3 separate regions of the Homo sapiens genome follow, and regions 1 and 2 are each linked to region 3. The links come from fine-mapping of genetic effects on gene expression. A gene starts in region 3. Each other region holds a variant in brackets. All regions are shown on one strand. Distances are between the middles of the regions.

What was found. PIP is the estimated chance that this variant, and not a neighbour inherited with it, causes the effect. A credible set is the group of variants that fine-mapping cannot tell apart.
Region 1: its variant is the best candidate, but not a certain one, in a credible set for the expression of PLXNA2 in whole blood (TOPMed, PIP 0.77).
Region 2: its variant is the best candidate, but not a certain one, in a credible set for the expression of PLXNA2 in whole blood (TOPMed, PIP 0.58).

The regions. Positions count from the first base shown.
Region 1 is chr1:208,489,271-208,499,506 of GRCh38, forward strand. No RefSeq gene overlaps it. Among named protein-coding and RNA genes, the nearest start is that of LINC01735, 120 kb to the right of the region's middle. The variant G/A (reference allele first, on the strand shown) is at 5,271.
Region 2 is chr1:208,155,001-208,165,236 of GRCh38, forward strand. All of the region lies in intron 3 of PLXNA2 (plexin A2), which reads right to left. Among named protein-coding and RNA genes, the nearest start is that of PLXNA2, 84 kb to the right of the region's middle. RefSeq lists enhancers at 4,393-4,905, 4,906-5,416. The variant C/T (reference allele first, on the strand shown) is at 4,396.
Region 3 is chr1:208,239,517-208,249,752 of GRCh38, forward strand. It overlaps PLXNA2 (plexin A2), which reads right to left and starts at 4,868. Exons shown (of 32, transcript NM_025179.4): 1 at 4,127-4,868. RefSeq lists enhancers at 3,406-3,907, 3,908-4,407 and a silencer at 4,926-4,985.

The DNA.
Region 1 (10,236 bases), 250 kb after region 3:
TCCCATTTCGTGGAGGATAGCAAAGATCATCATTATGCCAACTACCAGAAACGGATGTCCCTATACTTATGTCCATGGCATCATGGGCTACTGCTAATGTCCACCATGCATGGGTGACTTATTTGTCTGAGTTTGGTGAGACAGAATACACTCACATGCAACGAGTTATGTAAAGGGGTTTATTACTTAAAGATAAACAGCAAGGGACAGAAGAAGTCTCAGATCCATTGTGAACTGGTCCCCAAAGGATCAAGAAAGCTGGCCAAAGTGGATAAGGTCTTGACTGTGGGTGGGACCCCCAAAGGGCAGCACACCCCTGATTATATACTTCAGGAACCATGTGCCTTATCAAGTGAAGCTTTGAAGGACATCCTGCTTCTAGAGGAAGAAGGAACAAAGACCAGGCTGTCCCAGAGAGTTCCTCCCTAAGTTAAGATATTACATATCCAAAGATGATGAATAGGAACAAAACCTAGGCTGCTTCAGGCAGTTCTCCCCTCTCTAAGGATACTACATTCCCAAAACATTCAACAGTTATTCTTGAGAACTACAAGAAAGAAAGAAGAGAAAACTAGGTCAGTCCAAGGCCACCCAAACAACTGTCTTGAGTTTTTGTATTCTACGTACAAGTCCTTCATGTTTTGCGAATATATTTTCCTAGTCTGTGGCTTGTCTTTTCATTGTCTTAGTGGCATTTTTAGGGCAGATTTTTAAACCTTTAATAAAGATAAATTTATCTGGTTTTTTTTTCTTTTAAGGATCATACTTTTGGTGTCATATATAATAAATCTTTGCATAATTCAAAATTTTTCTCTATGTTTTCTTCTAGAAGTCAATTATCTTTTAAAGAGGTTTCTTAAAGGAAGACAATCTTACATATTTATTCATTTACTAATAGTCAATTTTAATATAGTCAATTATCTTTTAAAGAAGTTTCTTAAAGAAAGAAAATCTTACATATTTATCCATTTACTTATCCATTCCATTGTGTAGATTGATGTTTTGGTCAGATATCATTTTATTTTTGTCTGAGTAATATCCTGTAGCATTTCTTATGAGTTTGCTGGTAATGAATTCTGTCCATGTTGTTGTCTGTGAAAATCTCTATTTCACCTTTATTTTTGAAAGATTTTTTTTTCTGGACTTAGAATCGTGGACTGGTGGTTTGTTTGTTTTTTAATTTTTGTATGTTAAAGATGTTGCTCCACTCTCTTGCTTGCCTTGTTAATGATAAGACATTTGTTGTCATCTTTCTTTCCTTCCCTATATATAATTTTTTCCCCTGTGGATACTTTTAAGATTTTTTTTTTAACATTGGTTTTAAAAAACTTTAATTATAATGTGCTTTGGTGTAATTTTCTTCATGTATTTTGTGCTTGGGGTTTGCTGAGCTTCTTAGATCTGTGGGTTCATAGTGTTTTTTTCAGATTTGGAACTTTTTTGCCATTATTTCTTCAAAGGATATTTGAAAAATATGTTCTCTCATCTCTCTTCTTCCTTAGAAACTCCAATTACATATATTAGGCATATAATGGTTGAATTAGTTATTTGATGCTTTGTTCATTGTTTCCTTTTCTTTTCTCTTTGTATTTTATTTTGGATAGTTTCTGTTGCTATGTTTTAAAATTCACTATTATTTTCTGCAATTCTAGTCTATCATTAATTACATGCAGTGTATTCTTTATTTCACACATTGTAGTTTTCATTTATAGAAGTTCAATGTGTATCTTTTTCATCTTCCATGACTCTACTTAACTTTTTGTTAGGTATAGTTTATTTATTTATTTTTTGTATAACTTTATGAGGTAGTTGCACAATTTTGTTATATGCAAAGATACATAGTGGCGAAGTCAGACCTTCCAGGGTACCATCACCTGAATAATGTACATTCTATCCATTAACTTAACTTTGTGAAAATATAAAATGGTTATAATAATTGTTTTAGTGACTTTTCTGCTAATTCTAACACTTGTGTGCTATTCTCAGTTTGTTTTTATTGACCAATTGGTATCCTCATTTTGAATTGCATTTTCCTACTTCTTGTCATGCCTTGAATTTTGTTATTTTAAAAAATAATTTCAACTTTTTTTTTGAGTTTCAAGGGGTACCTGTGCAGGTTACTTACAGCATGCACCATGAGTATATTGTACGATGCTGAGGTTTGGAGTTCAAATGATCCCATCATCCAGGTAGTGAGAAGAGTACCCAATAAGTAGTTTCTGAGCCCTTGTCCACTGCCTCCCTTCTGCCTCTATCAGTTCCCCATGCCTGTTGTTCCCAATTTTATGTATACGTTTGCCCAATGCTTAGCTCCCACTTATAAGTGAGAACATGTGGTATTCGGTTTTCTGTTCCTGTATTAATTCGCTTAGGATAATGGCCTCCAGCTGCATCCATGTTACTGCAAAGGAAATTATTTCATTCTTTTTTTATGGCTGTGTAGAATTCTATGGCATATATGAACTTCTTTTCTTTATCTAATCCCATGGTGGATTCTTTATCTAATCTACCATGGGATTAGAAAAAGAAAAGAAGTGGGCACCTAGCTTGATTCCATGTCTTTGCTATTGTGAATAGCGCCACAATGAACATATGAGTGCATGTGCCTTTTTGGTAGAACAATTTATTTTCCTATATTTATATACCAAGTAATGTTATTGCTGGGTTGAATGGTAGCTCTTAAAAGTTCTTTGAGAAATCTCCAAACTGCTTTCCACAGTGGCAGAATGAATCTACATTCCCAGCAACAGTGTATAATCATTTCCTTTTCTCCACAGCCTCACCAGTATCTGTTGTATTTTAAAATTTTAAACATGTTGAGTTAATTTTTGCATATGGTTCAAAGTTGGCACCTATCTTCATTCTTCTGGATATGATTGAACAGGTATCTCAGTACTATTTATTGAATAGGGAATCCTTTCCTCATTGCTCATTTCTGTTTACTTTGTCAAAAATCAGATGACTATAGAAGTGTGGCTTTATTTCTAGGGTCTCTACTCTGTTCCATGGATCTATGCGTCTATGTTTTTGTACTAGTACCATGCTGTTTTGGTTACCGTAGCGTTATAGTATTAGTTGAAGTCAGGTAATGAGATGCCTCTAGCTTTGTTCTTTTTGCTTGGAATTGTTTTGGCTATTCCGGCTTTTTTTTTTTACTCCATATAAATTTTATAATATTTTTCCATAATTCTGTAAAAAATGACATTGGTACTTTGGTAGAAATAACAATGAATCTGTAGATTGCTTTGGGCAGTATGGCCATTTTAATGATATTGATTCTTCCAAACTATGAGCATGGAATATTTTTTTTTCATTTGTTTGTATCATCTATGATTTTTTTTAGTCATGTTTTATAGTTCTCCTTATAGAGATCTTTTACCTTCTTGGTTAGATGTATTCCTAGATACTTCATTTTTCTGCAGCTATTGTAAATGGGATTGTGTTATTGGTTTGGCCCTCAGTTTGAATGTTACTGGTGTATAGAAATGCTACTGATTTCTGTACATTGATTTTATATCCTGAAACTTTACTGAAGTCATTTATCAGTTCTAGGAGCTTTTTGGTAGAGTCTTTAGGGATTTTTGGTATAGAATCATATCATCAGTGAAGAGAGATAATTTGCCTCCTTTTTCCCATTTGGATGCCTTTTATTTCTTTCTCTTGCCTGATAGCTCTAGCAAGGACTTCCAGTACTCTGTTGAATAGGAGTGGTGAGAGTAGGCATCCTTGTCTTATTCTTGTTCTTAAGGAAAATGTTTTCAGCTTTTGCCAGCTCAGTATGATGTTGGCTGTGGGTTTGTCATAAATGAGCCTTATTATTTTGAGGTATGTTCCTTCAGTGCTTAGTTTTTTGAAGATTTCTATCATAAAGGGATGTTGGATTTTATCAAAAGCTTTCTCCATGTCTATTGAAATGATCATACATTTTTGTTTTACATGCTGCTTATGTGGTGAATCACACTTATCGATTTGCCTGTGTTGAACCAACCTTGTGTCCTAGAAATGAAGCCGACTTGACTGTGGTGAATTAACTTTTTGATGTACTGCTGGATTCATTTTGCTAATATTTTGCTGAGGATTTTTGTGTCTATATTTATCAGGGATATTGGCCCGTAGTGGTACAATTCAGCTGTGAATCCATCTGTGGCTTGTTTGATTGATAGGTTTTTATTATTATTATCATTATTATTATTACTGATTCAATTTTAGAACTCAATATTGGTGTGTTCAGGATTTTGATTTCTTCCTGAGTCAATCTTGGGATGTTGTGTGTTTCCAGGAGTTTATCCATTTCCTCTAGATTTTCTAGTATGTATGCCTAGAGGTGTTCATCATAGTCTCTGAGGATCATTTATATTTCTGTGGGGTTGGTTGTAATGCCACCTTTGCCATTTCTGATTCTGCTTATTTGCATATTCTCTTTTTTGTGTTGTTTTTTAATGTAGCTAGCAGTCTACTGAATTTGTTTGTCTTTTCGAATAACCAACTTCTGGTTTCAGTGATTCTTCATATGGTATTTTGGGTCTGAATTTTTTTCAGTTCTGCTCCAATTTAAATTATTTCTTTTCTTCTGCTAACTTTGAAGTTAGTTTGGTATTGTTTTTCTAGCTTCTCTAGCTTCTTTTCTTGTCGTTTCTAGGTGTGACATTAGACCATTAATTTGAAATCTTTCTAACTTTCTGATATAGGCATTCAATGTTATGAACTTTCCTCTTAACACTGCTTCTGCTGCATCTCAGAGATTTTGGTATGTTGTATATCTGTTTTTAATATTTCAAGTAATTTTTTTGTTTCTGCCTTAATTTATTTAATTTCCGTCTAATTGTGTTGTTTTGAGAGATCTTCTTGATATTTATTTCTATTTGTATTCCACTGTGGTTTGAGAGTATAGTTGGTATGATTTCAATTTTTTTGAACTTATTGAAACTTGCTTTATGGCCATACATGTGGTCTATCTTAGACTATGTTCTGTGTGCAGATAAGAATGTATATTCTTTGGTTGATGGGTGGAGTATCCTGCAGATATCTATTAGGTCCTATTGCTCATGTGTTGAATTTAAGTCCAAAATGTCTTTGTTAATTTTCTATGTTAATAATTTGTCTAATGCTGTCAGTAGGGCATTAAAATCCCCCACTATTATTGTGTAACTGTTCAAGTCTTTTGTAGGCCTAGAAGTACTTGTTTTATTATTAATCTGGGTATTCTAATGTTGGGTGTGTTTATATTTAGAATAATTAAGCCTTCTTGTTGAACTGAACTTGTTATCATT[G/A]TGTAATGTTCCCCTTTGTCCTTTTTTACTGTTGTTAGTTTAAAGTCTGTTTTATCTAATATGAGAATAATTACCCCACTCTTTTTAATTTTCTGTTTGTTGATAGATCTTTCTCCAACAAATCAAAGGCTTTACTTTGAGCTTGTGGGTGTCATTGTGAGTGAGATGGGTCTCTTCAAGAAAGATAGATGGGTCTTGTCTTTTTTTTTTTTTTCCTAGCCAAGTTGCCATTTTATGCCTTTGAAGTGGGGCATTTAGACAATTTACATTTAAGGTTAATATTGAGATTGTGAGGGTTTGATCATATTGTGAACTTAGCTGGCTTCTTTGCAGTTTCTAGTGTGTGGTTGCGTCATAGGGTCTGTGGGCCATGTACTTTAATGTGTTTTTGTGGTATCAGGCATTGTGTTTTTATTTCCATGTTTGGAACTCCATTAAGGATCTCTTGTAAGTCTTGTCTAGTGGTAATGAATTCCCTTAGCACTTGATTATCTAGAAAGTATTTTATTTTTCCTTAGCTTATGAAGCTTAGTTTGGTGGGAAATGAAATTCATGGTTGGAATTTCTTTTCTTTGAGAATGCTGAAAATAGGCCCCCAATCTCTCCTGGCTTGTAAGGTTTCTGCTGAGAAGTCTACTGTTAGCCTGATGGGGTTCCCTTTGTACGTGATCTGACCTTTTTCTCTAGCTGCCTTTAAGATTTTTTCTTTAGCATTGATGTTGGACAGTCTGGTGACTATATGCTTTGGGGGTGTTCATTTTGTATAATATCTCCAGGACACCTGTATAATCCAGATGTTCTCTGGATTTCTTGTATCTGGATGTCTACTGCTCTATCAAGATTAGAGAACTTTTCTTGAATTATTCCCTCAAATATATTTTCTAGTTTGTTTACTTTTTCTCCTCTCTCAGGAATGCCAATAATTCATTGGTTTAGTCATTTTACATAATCCCATATGTCTCAAAGATAATCCCATATTTCTCAAAGACTTTGTGTGCTTTTTAAATTTCTTTTTTTAAAAAAATTCTTGTCTGGCTTGGTTAGTTTAAAAGGCTGTTTTTCAAGCTTTGAAATTATTTCTTCTGCTTGGTATAGTCTATTGATAAAGCTGTCAATTGTGTTTTGAAATTGCTTAAGTAAGTTTTTTAATTCCAGAAGCTCTGATTTATTTTTTTAAAGATGTTTATCTCTTCTTCCATTTCCTGGATTGCTTTAAAAGTTTTTTTGTGTGTTGATTTTCAGTCTTGTCCTGGATCTCATTGAGCTTCCTTGCAATCCATGCTTTGAATTCTTTGTCTGTCATTTCTGAGTTTCCATTTTGTTAGGGACTATTGCTGGAAAACTAGTGTGATCTTTTGGTGGTGTTACTACATTCAGATTTTTCATAGTGCCAGAATTCTTGTGCCGGTTTCTTCTCATTTGGAGATGCTGGCAATTCTAACTTTTATAACCATTTTTATGTGGATAAGATTTTTTCTTTTTCATTTTTTCCCTGTAATATTATTATTATTTTAAAATTTTCCTTTTCCTTCTCCCCACCAGGGGGTGTGGCTTTAGAGAATGCTGGGTAGGGTCTCTTGGTTTTGCTTTTATAGCTGTATGCACTTCTGTCAGCAGGTTTTATATTGGGCTAACCTACAAGCCAGTAGATGGTGCTTATGGGTAAGAGCCAGCTGTGGCAGATATGGCTGGGTATATACTTGATGCATGTTTACTGGGAGAAACTCTCTGCTGCCTCAGGCAGTGAGCTGATCTGTGAAGTACACAGTGGTCTGAGTTCCCTGCTCAGCTCTGGAGTGGGGAGAGGGGTACAGGTGAGGCAAAAATGCAAGGGGAGGGACCAGGTATGGCACAAGCACCAGTGCTGAGGGAGAATATAATGAACAGCCACCAAACACCCAGACGTGTGTCTAGATGTGGAGCTGGGAAACCTCCTTGTCCCTAAGTACTCTGCATGGGGAGGGGGTGTGGCCTAAACTGCTAATTCAGGAGACTGGGTGCTTCAGATACCTAGAGATTTGCCAGGGCATGAAGTATGGAAGGCCCTGCTGTACCAAGGTTTCTGCACAGGATGGGTGAGGTGTTTCAGGCTGCTAATCCAAGTGAGCTGTTACTCTGAATGCCTGGAGACATGCCTAGGCATGGGCAGAGAGGGCCCTGCTGTACCACAACGTATACGGTGGCTCAGGCTGCTAATCCAGGTGAGTGGGTGCTTTGACTGCCTGGAGAGCTGCATGGGTATGGAGCAGAGAGGCCCCTGCTACATCATAATCTCTGCACAGGAAGGGTGGAGTGGCTGCTGGTCCAACTGAGTGGGTGCTCCAAATGCCTGGTGATCTGCCAGGCATGGAGTGGAAGGAGCCCCCCTGCACCAGGATCTCTGTGTAGGAACGGTGGGGCAGCTCAGGTTGCTCATCCAGGCGAGTAGGTGCCCCAAATGCCTGGAGATCTGCCTGAGTGTGGAGCAGATAGGGCCTCATCGCACCAAGATCTCAGGGCAGCAGGCCAAGATCTTGGAGCCAAAGAGGCTTCCCAGCTCCACATGTAGGCACACCTCTGGGTGCTCGGTGACTGCTGAAGGTATTCTCCCTCAGCACCCTGCAGGGACACATGCAGACAGGTTCCAGGTCACCAAGCTGGCCCTGGCTGCAAGTCTCGTTTCCCGGGAGAAACTGGGCCCAGGTTTGTAACATGGGGTGCGGGGGCACAATTCCAGCACCTACTGCTGAGGCGCTTTCCATAGCTATGTCTATGGAGGCTCCTACTCTGCTCCAAAGCACATGTTCCCGATCTCTGGCTTCAGATTAAAATGTCTATATGGCGACACTGCTGCGTTACCAAATGATGACTTTGTGTGTGCCCAGATTAAAACTGCTCCTGCTCCCAGTCTGGGAAAATGTCTGCAGCTTTTCCTAGTGTCTTTTCCTCTGAGGATCTCCAAGCCTGTCCCCAAGTTAGCTCTAGGTCTTGGGGAGAAACAAAGTTTTCTCCCTGGCTTGGGTGGCTTGGATCCCCAGTGGACAGGTGAGTCATGGAGGGTAGCTCTCTGCCTCTCCCGTGTTCTGGGGCTGCACTCACTCTTATCAGCTGAATGTCTTCACGGGGGCTTTTTGCTGGTGTTCTCTTCCCCAGGATCTGGGGTGTCCCATTTCCATTTTGAAATAAAGCTCACAGAGTCAATTTTTATGCACTACCTTGCTATTTCCAAGTGGCTGAGGCATGTTAAAAGCCTCTAATGCCATCTTGGAAAAAAAATGAAATAATTTTCTTTTTCTTTTTTTTTTTTTTTCTGATGCCAGGTACTACACATTTACTTTGTTGGTTCTTAGATATGTTGTACTCTTTTAAATTGTCTTGAGCTTTGTTCTTGAATACAGTTAAGTTACTTTGAAACAGTCCGGCTCTCTTGGGTTTTGCTTTTAATCTTTGTTAAAAGGGACCAGAGTGGTATGTGGAGCAGCACTAAGGATTCTCCACCACTGAGGAAAGATTCCTCGGAATAGTTTACCCAAAGACCCATGAATCATAAAACCTTCCAGTTTGGCTGGTGGGAAAGGAACTATTCTTTGACCTATGTGAGCACTGGTTACTGTTCCTTCTAATCCTTTCTGAGTGGCTCTTTCTTCAGCCTCAGGGTTTTTCTCACATGCTTGCACTTAGTCTTCAGCTGAATACTCGAGCGGCACCCTCTACAATTGCCAGAGTTCTTTTCTGTAGTTCCCTTCTTTTCAGTATTCTCTCCTGTGCACCCCAGCCACCTGGTTCTCAGCTGACTTTGAGCTCTGTTTTCAGCTGAGTTTGAGCTCTGTTTATTCAGGGAGTCTGCCAAACTTTACCTGAGTTCTTCCTCCATGCTCCACATCCTGGAACCTCTATCAAGACCTAAGCTAGACCAATTGCTCACTGCATTTGTTTCCCATCCCTCAAATTATTCTTCATAATCTGCTATCTAGTGACTTGAAAATTATTTGCTTTTTTGTTTGCTTGTTTGTTTTTAGGAAGGAAGGTAAATCCAGTCATTGCTTACCCCATCTGGGTGGGAAGCAGAAGTCCTGGTGTTAACAATATTAGTAAAAGACAAAATAGGCTGGAATAAAAATATTATTAAGAATAACTAAGGGCATTGCATAAAAACTAAAGAATCTATTTAACAAGAAATATGAAATCCAGAATCTCAAGGAGTTTCTCTCATAGAATCCAAGTTCTTTAACCACAATACAATAAATTTTAAAATCATGAACAAAAAGATAGCCTTATAGAATCTCACGAAATATTGATACATGATAGGGTAATTCGGGGACATAAAGAACAGACTCATGTTTGAGGATAAAAGGGTTAATACTAAGAATATATAAAGAACTTGTACAGATTGATCATAAATCCCAATAGAAAAATAGGCACAAGATTTAGCAAACATTTTGTAAAATAAGAAACATGAATGTTTAATAAACACAAAAGACACTCATTTTCCCAGTAAGCAGGGAAATGCTAGAGCAACAGTAATTTGGTGAAATCTCTAGCATATTTGACAGTTAGAACACATAATTTTTTAACACCTCCCTCCTCTGTACAACAAAATTATTTTCAGTGACAATTATGAAATGAAGCTATATGTGATTTTGAAGGCACTATATAGTTCAAAGTAGATCTAGATGTTGCGTCACTTCCTCTGGTTTTGTTTTGTTTCATAATTATCTTTGTTGAACTTCACTGAGTCAATGTCATTATGTCGGGTTCCCACTTCAAATCTCTTTACAAAATTCATAATAATTATGAGCCAATACAGTCATGGTTTCAAGTTCCTCCATGTTCCTACTAGAACGAGAAAAAAATCACAACTATTTATTCTACAGTTTTATATATACCTAATAGTTTGAATTTGGATCATTTGATAAAAATCAGATATAATATTTAATGTACATCATTGTCTAATAACTAATTAATAAATTTTAATAAAACCCTTTTT
Region 2 (10,236 bases), 85 kb before region 3:
AAATTGGGCTGGGAGGAAATTCTTCAGGGGGACATGGGGGAAATTAGTACCTCCTCCTCTGTCCTTTCCAAGGGAGCAGGACTGCGGGGAGGAGGAGCGGGAGGCAGCAGAGGGTTAGCAGGTGCATGGAGCGCGAACCCCTTGCATAGTGGCCGTTCCAGCCTGCTTTTGAAGGCAGCCTCTCTCAGAGCAAGGAGGAGTCGTTTGACTAGGGTCTCCACAGGACCGGTGCTGGGGACACAGAGGGCCGCAGTCACTGGGCCGAAGGGATGGCAGCCTTCTGTCTCAGACCCTTTTCACTTTGTGAAATAGAGAAAAGCAAGGGGGAGGCTCCAGTCCTTCACCCACAGAGAGAAGGCAGCTCGGGGCAAACCTACCCACTGCTAATATGCTCCTTAAAAAGTGCTGAAAGGAGCTATAGCCTGGCTTTTGTGTAAAGTACTAAAGCATCCCTCATTCTGCCCCTCCCACACCCCCACTCTTCTAGGATTTTTTTCTCTTAAAAGAGTGCTCCACCTCTCCAGGGACTGGAGTCATTAACTGAACAGCACTTTGCCTCTCATAGCTTTTGACAATTTGGCAGTAAGTTGGAAAGTACCAGAGAAACTGCAAAGAAGCGGAGGTGAGGATGGGGAGGGCAGGACCAAGGGGATGTGCCTGGAGGACCCGCCTGGGGCCTACCTGACTCCTGGCCCAACACCCGGCTGCACTGGACTTGTCCCACCCTCCCTGCCCAGCTCTGGCTCATGGGATGCTGAGCTCTGGCTCATGGGATGCTGGGCTCCAGCTGTCACAGGGGTGTGGTGGGGTGTGCAGGGGAGCATCACATGGCTTCCCATCTTCACCCCCTCTTGCTATAGCCTGGAGGCTGCCTGGGTCTGGCTGACAACCAATCTGGACAAAGGGATCCCTCCAGGAAATGTGGGAGTTAATGCCCTTCATTCTGCCTGACACCAGGACCTCCCCATGAAGCGCAGTGAAGGAGTACCTGAGGCTTAAGGAAAGGAGAGCCTATGTGGCTGGTGAGGGAGGATGGCCTAAATAATGACCCTGGGGCAGCAAAATCCAAGTCCTGGGCATTTCCTAAGTGGGGAAAGCAGGGTGAAAGAAAGGAGGGTTATGGATTTCCCAGTCAAGTTGTGATATAAACAGATCAAAGGGAGAGGTTTCTCGGGTTCCTGAGATGACCTATGTTGGAATATTTCCAGTTCAGCTTTAGACATCCTGACTATTAGGAAGCGAACGGCTTTGGGGGCATTCATCGAAAGAAGTAATGAGTCTTCAGCTTCCCTGGAGTGGATCGGAAGACTCTTGCTCCTCTCACCCCACTAGGAACTCATCCCTATTTAACAATCCTAGAATGTGAGCATAGCTATACTATTGAGCACATGCTACGAATTGGACATGACGCCAGGCATCTTATGTAAATGATTTACATGCAAATCATTTACAAAACCCATTTCACTGATGAAACCCAAAACCCATTTCACTGATGAAGAAACTGAGGCTCAGAGAGGTTAAGTGACTGCCTTAGGCCACACAGCCAGCCAGTAGTAGAAAGGCATGCAAACGAGTCAGTTTGATTATAAAATCTTTTATTAATCCATTTACTTCCCTAAAATACACTCACCTTTGTCTTGTGTATAATGTTAACATCTTACTGTCTGTCATTTTAATGCTCTTATTCTGCTGTCTGAGCCTCATCTAAGTGCCAACATAAATTATAAATTCCCAGATGTAGAAGTTGAATCTATATAGTTCATTTTATTCAACTTTTAGCAGAGTGCCAAGCATGACAGGGTGCTTAAAAATTGCATTCTATACTTGAATCAAGTGAGAGCTCCAGAAAGCCGTAAACTTGGACCACAAAAGCCAAACCAGCAAGCTTCCTTTTCCCTCACAGCCTCATATACTTATTTTTCAGCATTTGTTACTCCATAAGAATAACACATCGAATGCTGCTTGTTGCATGGAAGTCACAGCCTTGGCACTTTGTCAGGAGCTAATACAAGAAATTGCCATATAAAAGAAGCATCTGATTTGGATGTCAAACTCTTGTCCTGGTGTCTGTACAGGTCTCACATGATAAATAATTTACAGAATGTAATGTCTGGGAAATGTCCTGAAAAGTAGGGACACTGCCTTCTCTCAAAGTGTAAAGATTTCTTGCTCATTTCATTTCCCTTTATGACTTGGCTGCTGGGACACTCAGGCCAAATCTCATGCTGGATCCTGGTGCCTATGTTGACCTTCTTGGTAACATATGTGTTTCTACTCCCTTTATGGCTTGGCTTTTCTAGTTCTAAGACAGTTATCATTCCATGTTGGCCAAATCTTTTATTGTAAGTCATCTTAATTCCTTCTTTGGAAAGAAGTGAGATATGAATACACACAAATAATTATGCTCAGGTCTTTTCTTTGTACCCTATGAATCTGTACCTGTTGTACATTGCCTCAAAATATTCTCAGGTCTTTTTACTCTGTGCTTATATCATTTGCCTCTTTAAGGAAGAGTTGGCCAGTGGATGTTTCTGAGTGAGGGTCTGGGCTACTCTCAGGATGTTGTAAGTGAGGGGCTGGATGACAGGGGTGAGGTGGGGAGATACCACTCAAAATGGAAAGCCAGTGGTTGATTTGTATTCCACTGCACTAATAAAAATTCATAGACTCCTGGGAAGAGTAGCTGTGTAAGGTTCCGGGTTCAAGTTCTGGGTATTTGAGAACAGTGTGCTTGTAAGGAGAGCCACGGGGGTGGAGGAGAAACTCCTATGGGTCTGGCCCATAATAAAGCTCTGTAATTATTTGTAAAATGGAAGAATGAATGAATAAATTAATGAATGAATGCTTTTCTGGCCAAGAGATTCTTCTCATAGGAGAGAAGGCAAGACTGTTTGGCAGAAAGCCCCATCTTCAGGCCACAGAGGAGACTCAAGATCACTAGGAGCCCAGCGGAGTCCAAGCTTTCCACACCATCCTTGTCCCCAGCCAGGCCAAAGCATTCCTCACTGGCACCGTGTGCTGTGAAACCAGGCCAGTGTGCTGGACACCAGGGGAAAGAGAGTGGGAAGTGGGAAAGAAGGAAGGTAGGAAGGAGGGAGGACAGAAGCCTAGGTACAGCTTCTGATGCCTTTCTCTTCTTCCCCGTTGAAAGAGACAGTCACATAAATACTAGTCCACAGTGAGTGTGGGGAGAGAAATGGTGGTCTCTAAACCTGTGTCCCTCTGTCTGTTTTTACTCAAAATCTCCTCTTAACACCCACCTGCGTCTCTCTTTCTCCTTCCCTTCCTTGTCTCTCTCCCATCAATCCCCAGATCTCTCCATATACATTGTTTCTTTCTCTGTGCTGTCTCTACTTCTTTCTCCCTGTGTCTGTCTCCTCTCTCATACATACACATGACCTCTCCAAGATTCCCAAAAGAGAAGCTCCTCAGAGACCTGCATTTCCCCCTGTCTGCCCCAGACTCCAGAGGCAGTTAAGGGCAGAAGACACCAGCCCCAGAGCATGGGGGCTCTACCACCTCCCAAACTGACCTGTGCCCAAACCTGGACTTTCATTCTAATCCCAGTGGCCTTGCCGACATCAGTTGGACTAATTTTTTCCTGTAATTAAAAGGAACACCCCCCAACTCCATCTCTAATCCCACATAATTAGCTCTCTGATTGCCAGTGCTGGGCAGGAAACCTCCTGTTTGGAGAGGGATTTTGGACAGAAAGATTAGGCAAACACTATGCAGGAAGCTGCGCTGGGAAAACAGGCTGTTCTCAAAGTTTGTTGTTAAAAGAGATTTGTGGTGGGCAAAAGGGCCTGATTCCCTACAGGTGGTCTGAGCTGCCTCTGACCCTGTCGGGTTCTCCAACAAATGGGTCGCTTTTCTTGGCTTTCAAGATCCTCCCTGTGGTGGAGCCCTGCAGTGGGCTCTATCTCCAGCACATGGGGCAAGGAGTATTCCCAGGAAGCACATTCCTTCCTGCTCCCAGGGAGGACTGTGCTTCTCTGCATGGGAGAGGGAGGGAGAGCCGCATAGGCATCTACCCCCACAGGCTAGCTGGGCGATGGTCAAAGGTTACTGAAATATGGCAGGTGACAACAAAACCACCATGACTCCAATCAACCTAGGGAGTGGGAGAAATGCCAGGAAAATGGGGAAACCCCTTCCCTAGAGGCTCTGGGGAGGGCTCCTCAGAGCTGGGCATTGATTCTCCCAGCCAATGTTGTCCTTTGTCCATCTAACAGGCACTGCATTATCATCTGCTAGGCTGAGGGTATGCTGAAGGTAATGACATTTTGTTTGTTTCTATCACCTAATTTTTCTTTTTTGATCTTCATGATCATCCTGTGGGGGGAAGTACCTTCCCATAGAAGAGGAACTGAGTCCTGGTGAAAGCACACAACT[C/T]CCTCAAAATCACCAAGCAAACAGCTGGGGAGCCTATGCTAAAGTACCAGGCTCCAGGAAGACGGCTGCCCCTGCTCTTTGCACAATCCCACGTCCTCCAGCTCGTGCTCTTTCTGTCTTGAGAGTCTGGGCATTTAGGATGTTGGAGTCAGAGGAGACTGGGGACACCAGCCATCCAAGGGGATTTAGGACTCTGACAGCCAAGGGCTGGTCAACTCCTCTGTGAAGATCTGAAAGTCTGGTGCTACCGTGACGCCCACTTGCAATTCTTGCTGACATGGACTGGAGCTGGCATTCTCAGGCCCTCTAAATAACCTCAGGAGGGCCGGATCTCTGATGCTGCTTCGCCATCTCTGTACTACTCAAAGCCGTAAGATTATTCACTCTGGTTCTCAGAGAGGAAGGGGCAGGAACTGAAGCCAGGGGCTGGTGAGTGGGAGGGTGAACCTGTGCTTCCAGAGCCAGGGAGGGACAGCAGGGGCTGGTGGGCTGGCACTTGGGGGATTTTACAGCCTGCTGGTTGAGGTGCCTGGCCCTGCTCCTCCACCATGGCTTCTGCAGTGAGCTCAGGACATGGGGGAGGGAGCCAGGCCATGGATGGATTCCAGATGGGCTATCAGGTTTGCCCACAGTCGACTGTAAGGCTCCTCTGGTCTCGGCAGCTCCCTCAGCTCTGATTCAGCTGCACTCGGAAGGCCTGCTATGGAATGCCAGTGAAACCCAACCCGTCTCTCCCACCAGAGCCTCCCTCACTCCTTCTGCTACCAGAGATAGATAGCATGTTTTTTCTCTGTCCCTTCTTCCCTTCATTAGTACAACCCCCCCCGCCCAGAAGTAGAAAGGGTTATTGCGGGGAATTTAGTTGACAGCTGGGCCTCTGGCTCTGGAGCTCTGAACTATTTCCCCCTGGGAAGAGTAGCTGTATAAGGTTCTGGGTTCAAGTTCTGGGTATTTGAGAACAGTGTGCTTGTAAGGAGAGCCACGGGGTGGAGGAGAAACTCCTTGTGTCCCTCTGATTGCCAGATCAGTCTAGCTGGCCCTGACCCAGGCATGGGAGGGAGGAACACAGAACTAGGTAGAACACGGCAGCCAGATATCTGATACTCAACAGCATCTCATTGTTGCGTGGCTTCCACACAGGAACGTCATCTCATTCAATCTGCCCAACAGGCTGGAAGAAAGACAAGCCTTCTTTATCCCCAATCTGCAGACAGATATACCAAGGCTCTGAGAGGTTTAGAGCACAGATTTGGTTTTGGTCTCCTGAATCTTGCCATAAACATTTTTGAGGACCTGCTATGTGCTAAGGATAGCATTCATGCTCTGGGGCACAGAAACAAATGCAACACAGATCATGCCACAGAAACCAGTGCTGTTTTCCTATGTCACATAATTCATAGATTAATTATTCTCAGAGAGGGCCCACTGGGCCTTGTACTATAATAGACTTTTACACGTCCCCATCTCTCCACTGCTATTTTAAAAAGATCAAGTTCATTTCTACCTTGTAGAGACAGGAAGGAATTACTGCAAGTGGCATGAGGGAATCACATCAGGATTTCCTGCCTCAGTTTCCCCTTTGTTATCAAAATTCTGCTTTCTGGTGATTTGCTTCTGGAGTTTTCAGAATATTCCATCTCAGCCTCCTCCACCCAGAGCTGCTGCTCCTAGTCGCCCAGGTCTGCCTTGGATCCTTTGTTAATGACTGGCAGGCTGGAGGTGATGTTGCCTTATCAGGGTTGATTAGTTGGGCTGAAATTTACATTTTGCTTCAGAAAACCAGTCTGGAATCTCTGGCAGAAAGCAGCAGGGATCCAGCTTCAATAGAGAATGCCCCTGAGGCCCAGGCATTTGAATGAACCACAGAAGCCTTTTCTACCCTCTCCCTCTCCTTCCTCAATCCCCTTCTCACCTCTCCCCTCACACCAGAAGGCTGGTGAACTGCAGCAAAGGGCTCTCTGAATGTGCTTGCAGAAGAAAAGGCTTTATTTTATTTTTTGCTTCTTCAAAGAAAATATGAAGCTCCCTCCAGCCTCTCTGGAGAATCAGCTAGGGAACAGTCTGTCTCAAAATGCCATTAAAACATCTCTCAAATTAAAAACAGTCCTGAAATGTGCAACTTCACGAGAGAGTAGATTACTAATACGCAAATGGTGGACTCTGACCACCTGAGGGCACGGACGAGTGGCCAAGGCTCTGTCCTATGGTGCACGAGTGTCCTTGGGCAGGACATTTAGCCTCTCTGAGCCTCAGCTTCATCCCATTAATAATAATAAAAAAATTGTTATCTTCCTCCTCCTTAATTTCAGGGTGCTTTGGAGGGAGAAGTGGTCCTGTTACTCTCAGAGATAACGGTCTTGGTTCTCATCACATTCATCTCCAGCCTCTCTCCCCTGCCCTCCCTTTTTCTCCACAGTCATGGTGCTATTTTAAGTTGAGGCTTCCAGCCAAAATCTGTACTTTATTAATTACGCGTCAACTACTCTGTGTCATGTTTAATGCATTTTCCAGATTGTATTGAATCCACAGTAAAAGGAGGAGTCTGAATGTGGCCTGGGTGCCTGGCAGGGTAGGTGCTGGGAGGAGAGGGGGAGCAGGAGCCAGCCTGTGTGTGCCTCAACTTGATCTCTCCCCTTCTTCGCCCTGGAGTCTCCATTGAGGCCAAGCGTAAATCCTGCTTGTAGCTCCTTAGAGCTCTCTATTTAAAGAACACGCAGCACCCTGTGTAGAAGCACAGCACCCTGATGGGAAGGTAGAAAAACCTGCCTCATTAGGAAAGGCCAAAGGGCTCAGGACAGCTGACATCCATTAGCAGGAAGGGCAGAAGGCTGAGGGTGATTGGAAAATGTGACTCAGTGATATGCCAAGGGAAGACTGGAGATGACACTGACCATCTGTTCTTCTCCAAAGAGGAGGTAGAAATAGCATTTGTATTGGAGCAGGAGAGATGTGAGCTAGACCTGGGTATTACATTCCTGACTGCTAGGTTTCCAGAGCTGTTTCTAGCTGTGTGATTTGGGCAAGTCCTTCAGTTTATTGGGCCTCAGTTGACTGATATATAAAATTAGCATTTACTCAAGGTGAGCCCTGAGGTCCTTTCTAGCTTTGGCCCTTTGTGCTTCTTTCTTTGAGGAGACTATGGGGAGAAGCAGAATCTTTTTAGGGGAGTACAAAGATGAATCCTGCATGCTTCTTGATCTCCAGGAGTTCACAATCAGGCAAGGAAGGCAGATAAACTATGAAATAAACATAATAACAAACAGGTACTGTTCCGTGTGCTTTACCTGTATGAAGACATTAAATGCCTACAATAGCTCTATGAGGTAGGTCCTGTTATTATCTCTGTATGCCTGATGAAGAAAGTAAGGCATTGAGAGGTTAAGTAGCTTGCCCAAAGTCATACTCCTAGTAAGAACAGAGCCAGGTTTTGAGCTCAAATAATCCCACTCCAAAGTCTGTGACATTCACCACTGTGCACACTGCCTCTAACAAAGAAATACAAGCAACTCACATACAAGGCTGACTCTGCTAAGTGCTGTAACCAATGATAAGAAATGTGGGATTATAGAGGGGCAAATCAGGAAGGCTTCACTGAGGAGGTGTGATATAACTTAAACCTGAAAGGACAGGGCACTTCATCAGGCAGAGAGAGGGAGGCATGGCAGGGACAGCTTGAGTCAAGACATAGGCATGGACTGACCCTTGAGCCAAGGCACAGGGGCACTTAGGGAAGAGGGAGGGATTGGCAAAGCTGGAAGAACAGGGTGTGAGTGTGGCAGAAGTGGCATGGGGAAGGGATGTAGGGAGGGATAAACTGTTTCTGGTGGAGGGATGCCAAGACCTTGCTCAAGAGACTCAGCTATACCCTACCTACAAGCTGCGGAGAGCCATTAAATGATATAAAAAATGTGAAAGCTAACTTAGAGAAGGCAGGGCAGGAGCCAGCACAAGTTCAAGAATAGATAATAAAAGTCTCAGCCTGGGCTGGGGGAGGGAGGTGGAAAGGAGGGCAGGTGAGGGAAAAGATGAACAGACAAGATTTGGCAGCAAACTCAATGTGGGAAATGAGAGAGAGGGAGCAGTATGGGAGTTAGAGAGCTCACCTTTGCCTGGGATGGCTGGTGGGAAATGTGGATGGGTGGCCCCAAGGGGCATGGGGTAGGGAGCTCTAAACTGTGCATATTAGGGATGAGACAGAGAGGCTGACAAAGCATTTACAATTCAGCTTAAATATTGCTTCCCCAGGAAGCTTTTCCTGATCCCTTTTCTCCCAGTAGTTCTGGTTCCCTAGTTACAGGTTCCCATGCTGCTTATTGAACTTTGGACATCTCTACAACACTGGCCAGCCATGTAATAAGCAGTTATTTGTGCAACAACTTGCTGGTGTCCTTTCTCCCAACCATCCTTTGTTTTGTTGAGTTTGGTGTCCCCAGTGCTGAACACAGTGCCTGGCAAGTCGATGCTCCATAAATTCTTGCTAAATGAATTGATGATCTCTGCCTCTGGGCCAGATGCCCTTCTCCCACTCTTGGATGTCAGCATGTGGGGGGCTTCTCATCACCACCCCCACAAAGGGGCCGCTTCCCCCCATGGAGCACAGGAAGGCAGGTGTATTCATGTGTTCACCTGTCCACTCTGCCCACACTTGTGGGTTCTGACGCTTCCATACAGTGTTGCCGCATGGCAATAATGAACAATTTAGCATGGAAATTGACCTTAGCAGGAAGGGGCTGGCATGTGTGTGCCCCATTAGAGAGCATTTGGTTAGGGGACACCTTTAGCCCTGCAGGCTACAGGGGAAGACTTCTGTGATTCCCCTTCCTGGGCAAGCCCCTCCCAGCCCAATCCACCTCTGCCTCTTTTTTGTTCCCCAAAACCCTCTTCTGCTCCATTCACCACCAACATCTACCTGAGGAGGCGGAAGAGGAGAAACAAGAGCTCTGCCCCTACTCCCTGAACCCTGTTCAGGACTCTGCAGTTCTTTGCTCCGCATGCCCTAATGCAAAAGGTAAGAGCAGAGGTGAGCCTTCCTTCCCTTCCCTCTCATAGGGAGGTTTAGTACCAGTTGCTTTTTGGTGGTGTCTTCCATTGAGGGCCAGTTCCAGACACCTTCTAAGAAATACTTTCTTTCCAAATCCCCACAGAATTTGGAGGGAAAAGGGAAGATGAAAGTATCTGATACCCTTAGAAGTGGAATAATTTGGCTCCTTAAAAAGCCAGGGCAGGGACCATCTTTGAAAACACCTAAGATAGAGAAAACAAACTCTGTTTTAGAGGCTGGGCTGAGTGAAGAAGCTGGAGCTCCCTTCATGCAGGTGCCAAACCCAGCCCTCCTCGCCTTCAGATCCCTGGGCGTCAGTCCGGCAGCGGCTCCCTGGGGGCAGAGGAGGGAGCTCCTGAGGAAGTACTTAGCAGGCGCTGCCTGACTCTAGCGGCACTAACGGATTCTCTTATCTCGCCGGGACCCTTGTCTGCAGATCGGCAAAGCTGCAAGGAGGTGGCAGGTTAAAAATACTCTGTTAGCAAAGAGGCTTAGGTGGGGGCCTTGCCAGGGGAATTACAGTGATGAGAGGCCTCTGAGGCGGGAAGTCAGGGACGGAACCAAAGCTGCTGGACCCTCCGCTTCTCTTGTGCCCCCTGTTTGAATTTGCCGCAATGATTGGCAAAGGCCTGTGGAGATGGAGGGATTAATGTTGCCTCTTTTCTAAGGCCTGGGGAGCCATGTAGCAAATGAGGACCATGGCAGTCACCTGGCCTCCCTCCTTCTCAGCCTGGAGCTTGGGCATCCTTGGCATGCCAGCAGATCTCTGGTGGGTGCACCCAAGCCCTCATTCATCTTAT
Region 3 (10,236 bases):
CTTTGATGTTCAGGATTCCAGGTCTGACTTGTTAGGAATGCCTTGGTCAGGCCTTGGACCACATGGACTCACTTCAAACGGCCAAAACAGCCACCCACAAGCCAGATCCACAGTGAGAAGCACTAGGAAAATCCTAGTGGTTATAGAGCTGTCTATAACCTGAGCTCAGAGCTCCTGCTCCGAATCCTGTGTGAAGCCGGCTGCTCCCTTCAATAGATTCTCCCCACCTCTGTGCCTGCTTCCCAGTCTCTGACACACGCCCTGCCCTGCAAACAACTGGCAATGCCTGGGTAAAGGGACAACTGGCAGTGCGTGGGAAGAGTATGCTGGGGTAGGGGAAGAAGGTGAGGAAGAGGTGAGTGGGGGTCAGTGGCTGAGCCTGGGGCTGTGGCAGGACAGTGGAGACACAGCAAATGTTAAGCTGGGGTGAAGGGGGGTATGGGGGAACACCTGCTGGTCCTCTGAGTTTCCCAGAGATATTCTTTCACCCAAGAGAGAGACAGAACCAGAGCAGGGAAGGCGGTTAATGGTTAACCAACTGTAGAAGCAGAGAACTTTTGCACTGCTCAGGCCTCAGCCATTTCTTTCAGCTCTGTGCCCTTCCTTCCTCCTCTCCCCTTACACTCTTACCCCGCAAGGACCCTGCTCCCCAACAAAGAACTTTCTCGCCTCTATTTATGCCCTCCAATTCCAGATGGAGCAGTGTGGAGCTAGATAAAGAGGTTCCATATGCCCAAATGCCAGGGAATGAGGCCCAGGAGAGCCTGAGGGCTAAGCCCAGGAGGACGGGGATATCCTCTTCTTACCAGCCATCCCTCCCTCGTGCCTTGAGACCAGCTGTTTGACCCTGGGAAGAACTGCCTTTCTCTCTGTCTCCATAGGGCTCACCTTTAGAAATGACCGAAAAAGAAGTGGATGCACACCCACCCCTCATTTACTCTAATCAGGCATGAAATCTTTGTAACGAAGTGAAAAAACTGTTCAGGGAACTGGTTCCATTCATCATTGTTTGAACTGAGCATATGTGAAGGGTAGAAATAGAATATTCACATATAATGAATTGATAACAGACTGCCCCTGGGTGGGGCGGTGGTGATTGGGGCTGAGGGGGGAACGCACACGAGCTGTAAAACTCCCAGCACCTCAAAGCCTGTTTCTACCAGTTTCCCTATGGACAGTCAGTCCTGAATTATTTCTAGTTAACAGACTGTAACACAATGCTCCAGTCTCTTTATGATCAGAATGGGGGTGGGGGGTGGGGGCTTGGCTAGGCGCTCCTTGCCTCTCCATTTGCCATGATGGACAGAAGTATATTGTGCCTCAGTTCGTGTGTGTGGAGACAGCTGTGTGGCAATGCAGGGAGACAGCTGGTGGTGGTGGGGAGGTGCTGCTGGAGACAGGAATTGCCTCCCCCACACCAAACCCTATATCTTAGGGAGGCAATCATAGAAAATGAGGTAGGATAGAAACTATAAAACCCCCAAACAGTGACAACTCCAGCACCATAAATATTTCATAGCACCTAAAGTGGTGAGTTTAGGCTGCTGTCAGCTGCTGCCTTGTATATTTAACCATGTCACTGGTTTCCCCTCCTGTTCCTATGTTTTCTTGTAACCTGCCCATGAAATAAAGATTAGCTGAGTAAGCAGAAGTATTGGTAAATGGGAAAGGGACCTAGGAAACAGGTAGCTGTTCTTTGAGGGCTTTCTTTTTAACCTCATTTTAAGTGCAGACTTCAGTAAAACAGATGGTGAAGGAACTTTTACATTCACCGCATCTGCAGCTTTTGATGGTCAAGAGAGTTGCAGGGTGAATGTTCCCTGGTGCTCTGAAGACAGGGATAGGTATTCAGACTAGCTCTGAAAGGGGGGCCACCAACCTTGTAATGACATGGTTTTGGGCGATGGACATAAGACACTGCCATACTCTTCATTTAGACTTGGGCTGAAAAGCTAGCCAGCCCCCCTGTCCTGCTCCAGGCTTTGAGGGACCCCTGTCCTTATGCCCTGCCAAAAAGAAGGACCAGCTGGGATTTCCTTGGCAGACTCATGGTCCCTGGATAGAGATCTCCTGGTACTTTACCACTGCTGCTCCTCAGCATCTTCCCTGCACATCGCTCCAAATGTCATTTCCATTTAACTGCTTTGCAAGCCAGTTTGCCCCCATCCTAATGCAATTTGCTGAGGACAGTGAGGGAGCAGAGAGGGTAATCTGCATTGCCCTCCCTTTATCAGCAGGTCCCTGAAGACGATCGGCTGCGGAGTGGAGGGAAATAGCTCCTTTAGGTAATGCTGGTTGGTGGCAGCAGGGGCAAGTTCTGGAATGAGGAGGGGTTGGTGGTGATGCCAGGTGGAAGAAGGGGAATGAAAAACAACCTCGCTATGACAGATTCCACTGTTTCCTTGGTTCCCTACCCTTTCTCTTCACTGCCCCTTCAGCCTCCAGGCCACCACCAAGGAGAGATCCCAGGTAATTAGTTCAAATGGTGCTCCGTGAAGAGAGAGGGAAGTTAATGAATTCTTCTCTTTTCTTGCCTGGAGGTCAGAGGGGAGAGGGCTGCAAGCAACTCTGGGAGCTTTCTGGGGTTATTGCATAAAAGTTGTGCATTTCAGTTAGGAATAGCTGAATTCCTCCAGCCAAGGTTATCTCTTCCTGGGGCTCTGTCAATCAGTAGAAGGCCCCAGAATCCAAAGCCAACCCAGAGGGAAGAGTGAAGTTTCAAGATCTGGGAAAGAAGCCCAGCAAAGGAGGGAGACTGCTATTGTGTGGGGAGAGGGGAGAGCTAAACCTGACTCCTGCTCTCAAAGCCTCCAGCCCAGGCCAGCCAAGATACTCATCTTGGCCTGCCGCTCATAAGCCTTGTCCACTGTGCGCGTGAATGGAAGGAAATGAATGTGCCCCCAAATTTCTGTGGGTTCTTCCAAACTGATGGGCCCCCAAGTGACTGCCTCAAGCTATGACTGGCAGTCCCAGTCCCCTCAAACTGATGCTGCCTTCATGTCCCTTGTGCACTTTCTACTGGTGTGCCACTGTCACTCTAAGATTCCTACAGGGGACCTGTTCAGATTTCCATTGCCCACTTCATGGGGCTCTCATTTCTAGACCCTTACTGACCTAGAGCCCCAAATCTTTTATCCAACTTCCTCCCCACCATTATTTCTATCCCTCCTGAGCAGAGCTGAGTTTGAGTAGGTAGCTCCCACTAGGGCAAGGGTCATTCCAAACAGGTGGACTTTTTTCGGGGATCTAAAATGGTAGTTTCTGGTGACTCTCTGGGCATCTAGACCATGATTGGCATTATAGAGACTACCTGTGGGATGGATAAAAAGGGCTAGAATTTTCTAGGATCCCTACCTCACTTGTGGGGTGGGGCAAGAAAGAGCACATGGAAGGAAACATTCTCAAATGGTTCATAAGGAGCCTCTGGGACCCTAAGCAAACTCCCATTTCAACCCCCAGCACTCCTGTGGTGCTCAAACTAAGGGGCTGGACCCCTGCTGGGCGATACACCGCAAAGGGAGCCCCGGGAGATGAAACACTTAGACCCATTCAGTGCCTAGGAATCTCTCCCTGAGCCTTATGGAACCCGCGCAAATGATGTTTTCCCATTCCCCTGATCTCCAGTCCCCGATCGGAAGGGAGAGCCGGCGGCCACCAGGGACCCCGGCACTGGAGTGAACGCCCCCAAATCGATCGCTGGCCAGTGTGGCTTTGGGCTGTCTCGCTGGTGCCACCGAGGCCCTCTTTGGGCTCCAGCTCTCAGGACAGCCTTGCCGCCCCGAGCTCCCCAAAGCCGCAGAGCGCCGGCAGGTGCGCGGTGGAGGCGCGCCGCGGAGCGCTGCTGCCGCCCTCAGCCCGCATTCGGGAAGCCGGCGGGCTGCCGGCCGGGAAGCCCTCGGCGGGAGGCAGCGGCTCCAGTGAGCCTGCGATCGCGCGCACGCCGCGCTCCAGCCCGCGAAAGTGGCCGAGCCCACGCGGGGACTCGCCCGCCGCGGCCAAGCCGGGTCTTCTGGGGCCGGGACCCCAAAGAGGCGGGCGCGGGAGAAGCCGCCACGGGTGTGCGCGCCTGTGGGGAGAGGGCGGAGGGCGCTGCCGACTCCGAGCGCCCGGCCCAGCCGCCGCTTACCCAGCTCGGCGACGTCGGTCTGTCCTTCCGTCCCCGCTCGGTCTACCTCGGCCGCCGCCGGCTGCTGAGGGCGGCGCGAGGCCCCTCTCCCTGCCCGCAGCTCGGAATCAGGGAGACGACCAAATCCACATGGAGTCCAAATTCATTAAAATCCACGTCAAGCCACCAGACACTTATCTGTATTCCTGAAGTCGCTCCTCGGTCTCCGCTCCGCGCGCCCCTCAGTCCTCCGTCGCCCCGCAGCAGCCCGGCTGGGCGCTGTCGCCGGCTCTCAGGGGGCACCCGGAGGCGCCGAGGGGGCGTGTGGGGGCGGCCGGCGGTGTCTCTCCTGAGGAAGAAGCAGAGCCCCGGCTGTCTTCAGATTTTTCCAGCGCGACTTTCCGGGCTCCTCTGACATCAGCAATCCCGGCGCTTCCTTCCCTTCTTGCTCTCCGGTTCGTTCACAGTCCCATTTCCTCCGGGAGCCTGGCTTTCCAGATCTATTTCGAGGTTTGCTCCGCTGGCTGCGGCGCTCGCACGCCCTACCGCTCCCAAGCTCTCGGGGTCTCTCTCCGGATCGCTCGCCCTCTCGGCTGAAAAATTCCCAGCAACTGCCCTCCGCCGCCCTCCCGCTCCAGTCTGGCGCGGATGCCGCTCCTCCCGGCAGCTCTGGCTCCCGCGGTGGCGGCGGCGGCGGCGGCGGCGGCGGCGGCGGAGGAGCCCTGAGCGCCGGCCTCCCTATTTCACCATGCAGCTCATTATCATAGAGGCCGCGCGCGTTAACCCCCTCCCCGCCGGCCGCGTCCGCCCGGGCTGGGGCCGCGCCCGCTGCTGGCACCGCCCGCCACCGCCAGCACCCTGCCCCCTCCCCCGCCCGCGCGGACTTCCTCCTCCGCAAGCTGTCAACAAAGGAGAAGCAGGTTTGGCATCCGGAGGCCGCTCGGCTGCCTGTCCTGCGCCCAGCTCAGCCCGGACCCATCGGCCACCTTAAGTAGCCAAGGGGGCAAGGAAAATGCTGCCAGGGCCCGGGAATTCGAGTCGGGCCTTGCGAGCCCAGCTGGCTTGGCCCCCGGGGGAATAGAAGGTCTAGCGTTGGGGTTAGGGGGGAGCTCAGAACACAGGAAGAGTGGGTGAGGGCAGTAGGGACAGGGAATCCCCCCCATTCGCATCACCTGTCACCGCACACATCCTGCACACCTCCCTCTTCATCTGTAATTTGAGTGAGGGGTGAGTGGGGAGGAACGGGGCTTGTCTGGTAGGGTTGAGACTAGAGTCTTGGAATTTGTGGGAGCAAATTTCCTCTTCTTGTAAATTAAAAAAAGAAAAAGGCCAACAAGCTGTCAAATAAGGCTTGAAGTTGTTGTTATTATTATTATTGCAATGAGAAGATGAACCTTGCTCTGAATTGAATCTCAAACTTCCAGCCCTGATAGGGATCCTGGGCATCTGGTAAGTCCCGACTTGCATGGGGGCATTGGGGACGGGAGAAGAGCTTTCTATATCCAATTCAGAGAATCTTTCTGGCAGGGTAATCAGAGGGGTGGCAATAAGATAACTTATTTTAATAACCTAAGGTGAGAGGTTTCGGGATTCTGGATGACAATGTCTCGGTGCCCTCAAGGCCACTGATTCCTCGCCACACAGTCTCAGTAACTCCGCAGCCTCTAGACACGGCTTTCCGGAAGCGGCCTGCAAGCTGGACCCCAGCGAGTTCGCAGGATCTGCGTAGTCCCTGCTCGCGATTAGAGCGCACACGAGTTTACTCCTGTCCAAGTATTCTGATAAGCTTCCTCTACTGCCCTCTCGTGGCCACAGTCCTCAGTGGTATAAATCTAAAAAACAACAAAAATCACTGCGAATACCTAAAAGCAATTGCACCAAATTCTTAGAGCAGTAGCGGCAGAAGAAACGAAGGGAGGGAAGGATGAAGAAAGGGAGCCGGAGAAAAGAGAGAGAGAGAGGAAGAAGAAAAGGAAATCTAGACTAACCAGTCATCTCGAACAATCGCACATTCAACACAGGACTGGGGGATCTAGGCTTTACTCCAACATCTGCAGAAATCAGCGAATTCTTCAAAAGTTCTTCATTGTAATTAGCTGAAATTTGTGTTCCTGTAACTTTCACTGGCTACTGCTAGTTTTGTCCTGTGGGACCACAAAGAATCTGTCTAAGCTGTGTTGCCTGATCCATACCTGTTCTTTCCTTCAAACTTCTTTAGCATTCATTGTTGGTAACACACCAATAAATTATCATATTTACCCTGTGTTATTATTTATTTATTTTTATAAGTAGATCTTGTCTCCCCATGCAGACAGACTAGTCGATCGTTTTATCTCTGGGTAGACTGAATCTAAACCACAATTTATTAAAAAAGATGATTTGAAGAAGATGCTAGAAGATTTTGGAACACTTCCTCCATTTGTTCATGGAGTTTGGCCAGCTACACCTAAGACCAGCCGTGGTAGGATTGGAGATATCTAATTGATAAAGCTCCAAGCTGAAAATTAGGGCCCTCTGGTTCTAAATCAAGTGGTGTCTGACTCTGGAAGAGGTCACCTCTCTTCCCTATGCCTCAATTTAATCACACCTTGGGAAGATTATGATACAATTGAAATAATTTTCTCATATGCCACCCTCCACTCCTGTGGTCCAGAAATAAATCTTAGAATGAAGAGCAAGGAAGCATAAAATGAAACAGACTCTTCCACTCACCCCATCTTTTATCCCCACACCTCCCCTCTCTTTCCTGAATAAAGGGAGAGAAAGAGGGAACACAGGCGGGAGGACACATTGTGGCTGACAGGGTGGCACGACGCCATCCAGATTCCACATTGCCACTGAACAGGGTCTAAGATCTGAGTCCTGTGAGACTATGGAAGAGCCTGTGGTCAGCATAGCAATGGAAAGAGCGCTAACTTGATCTACTGGGAGGTACAGTGGATGAAGTACCTCTAACTTCTCTAGGCCACAGTTTGTCCATCTGTAAGATGGGAATTTCTGTCTTCACTCTCCAGACAACTGGGGGAATTAAAATAGATATATGTAAGCGTGTTGGAAGAAGTAATAGTATCATCAAAATGGAAAGATTGTTGTTATATTTAGTCCTAATAGGCTAGAACAAATATGGATCTTATTAGCTAAACATCTAATTACCATAACATGCTCTGAGAATTTAAAAAAAAACCAAAACCTTGGGTTCATGGTTCGTATTTAGATTTGACATCCTCTGAGGCAACAGCGGTATACCTGAACCTCTAGTCTTTACATCTGCTCGTTAACCTTCTCCCTTTGATCTGGGTATTCATTCATTTATTACGCAAATATTTATGAAGAGCAAATTTACTAAATTTCTTCCTTTAATGGAACTATATACAGTCCATAATTACTGCTTTGGCACATATTTTTAAAGAAAGCATGGCAATAACCCTACAGATTCTATAACCTCAGATCTATCTCTTTCTGAGGTTTCTGGTTTTCTTGTATGTTTCTGCCCTTCACTATATTCTTCCTCATTCTGTCCATCTGATATCAGGCCCACAGCCCCTTGGGACTGACCAGTCCTCTGTCAGGGCCTTGTAGTTCGTCCTCATTTCCATCTGGAAGGATAGATGTAGTGCAACATATTTGTGAGCAGGCTGTCGATATTTAACAAATATTTATCAAATGAATGAACAAATGAATGAATGGGGAAATGTTTATCTTATGCCAAATCCTCATCATTGGAAAATCATAGCACACTCAACAGGGTTCTCCACTCACCCCAACCTACCTACCTTCCCTAGTCAAGATATTCCTGGAACCTCACCTTGAAAGTCATTTGTCACTTCTGCATTCTTGTTCCAGGCCCCAGGCCTCTTCTTTGCTTGTCAAAGAAGCAAGCTAAGTAACTAGATGGGTTACTTAAGCAAGAGAATGAGAGAAGTGGGAGAGGACAGGGCACCAACATTCTGGAATGCCACAGAATGTTTCCTGTGAAGAATGAATATTTCTCCTGTGGAAGGCAGGTTTGGCTAAGATGCTGCCACCTGCATTTTCCAGGCTGGGAGCAGGCCTTGGCCCTGGAAAGCAAGCTCTTAGACTTTGGGGAGCACAGGCCCAAATGGGCAACTAGCCCATCCCTAGGGGAAGTCCTTTATGTCACAGCAGCAGCTCCAGCCCCACAAATAGATGCCAGTACAGTAGCCCCTCGGATCACAGGAGGTATTTTTGGTGCTGGAAGCCAGCCACACTTTGGCAGGCTTTCAGCATCAAGTCTGTTCCCTTTAGAGGCGGGGGGTGGCAAGCTATCAGTGTTTAGCATGGGAATGCTGCCTGAGAGTGTGTGCATGCATATATTTACGGTGCCTTGAGTCGGCTGGGAGGTGGGCTCAGGAGGATGTGTGCCTGGACCTGTGCTTGGGAGCCAAGGGTGCTCCTGCTTGCCAGTGTCAGAGGGCAATGTTTGGATGGTGCACTGGCTGTTGCCCGGTTTGTACCTGGCTCCCAAAGCTGAGACCACTGATGCCACCACCAAGTTGATTGGTCTCTGCTCTAAGATGCATGTCATCTTTCACTTGCCCTGAGCCCAGGCTTGCCACTATAGACAGGCAGGAATGTGGTCCCTTCTGTCTCCCTACCAGGTACCTCACCTTCATCCAGCAGATGCTGTCAGGCAACCCCAGCAGCAGAGCAGCCTCCCCTTAACCCCTACATTGTTAGGAACAAAGGGATTGGTCCAGACAGGCCAGCCTGGAGTGTGTGGGCCAAGTCCTGTGAATGGAAGAGAGAGACTGCGGGATGCCAGAGTGGTGGGTCTCAGCCCAGGCAACGGGGCTGGCAGCCCAGGACACAGGAACAGGGCATCTGCTCCGGGGTTCTCAGTACCATTCATAAAGACGTCACCCTTCCCTCCCCTCCCCTCCCCTCTCCTCCCTTCACAAATCCCACTTTCCTGTGTACTTTAAACAGTAGCAAGCCTGTTAAGGCTCCAAATCAAACAAGGCAGGATTTCGCTCCTTTCTCACTAAACCTCCCACGAGCAGAGCTTATGTCCCTGTATACCTCGTCCTCTTTCCCTAACCCTCCCTCCCCTCCTCCATCCATCTAGTGTGTTGCTCTGGGAGAAGAATATTCTCTGTGAAGCCCAGGCAACTGCAGTCCCAAACCTACTTAAATAGGTCCCTGGAACAGTTTGCAAGGCTCTGGCATTTGCAAGGTCAGAAGGCTTCAGAGGAGGGGTGGGGTAGGGGAGTGTGGACAACTGGGCTCCAGGCATGGAAGGTGAAGGCTGAGGCTCAGGACTTATTTTTTTTTTTGCTCTATTCCTAGCACTAAGGGTCAGGAAAAGGGCCTTCCTCTCTTATTTTTTCTAAAAGAATCCCCCCAAAGGAGAAACTAATCATTTGGTCACATAATCCCTGGGTAAATCTCTTGGTGCCTCAGTTTCCTCCTTTATAAAGTGGAATAATGTCCCTTGCATTTCATGTCTTGCAAGATGCTGACTATGAAAGAGCTTCACAAGCCAGAAAGCATTATACAAATCCATGGGAATGTTCTCTTAAAACCTGAAAGTTCCATCCGGAGGCAAACCTATTTCCCAACTGTACAACTGCAGTTCTTCTCTTGGTTGGTTTTCTAGGAAAAACAGCTGGGCTCACCAGAAATATCCCTTTGCTTATGGGGTCATTGTTGTCCATCACCTCGGGGTCCCTCCTTCTCTCCTACTCTTCCACTCAAAAATGCTGCAGAGAAAAAGAGATTCTGTCCACAAACCTTCATCTATGGAATCACAAAGCACACCCAGGCTGGAGTTGGTCCTCATTACTAAGCAGCCCACGTACACACCCACACCCTCCCAGGGAGCAAGAGAAGAGAGGGGCGGCTGAGGTGCCTTGGAGAACACGCTGTGATTGCATAGAAATTAGCATGGTCCCATTCCCTGTGGGCTGAGATGTATTATGTGAATGTGCTTTTGGGGTCCACCCCTGCTCAGCAGCCCTCACTGGCCAGGAATCCCCTGCCTGTTCTGAGTCACTGACCTCCTGTCTTTGCTGCATAGCCTGGTTCAGAGGACAGTTGCTGCCAGAACTACAGTTGGGTTCTAAGGCTTTCTGAGGGCTCAATGTCTTCTGGGCGGGCCTGCCAGGGCTTTC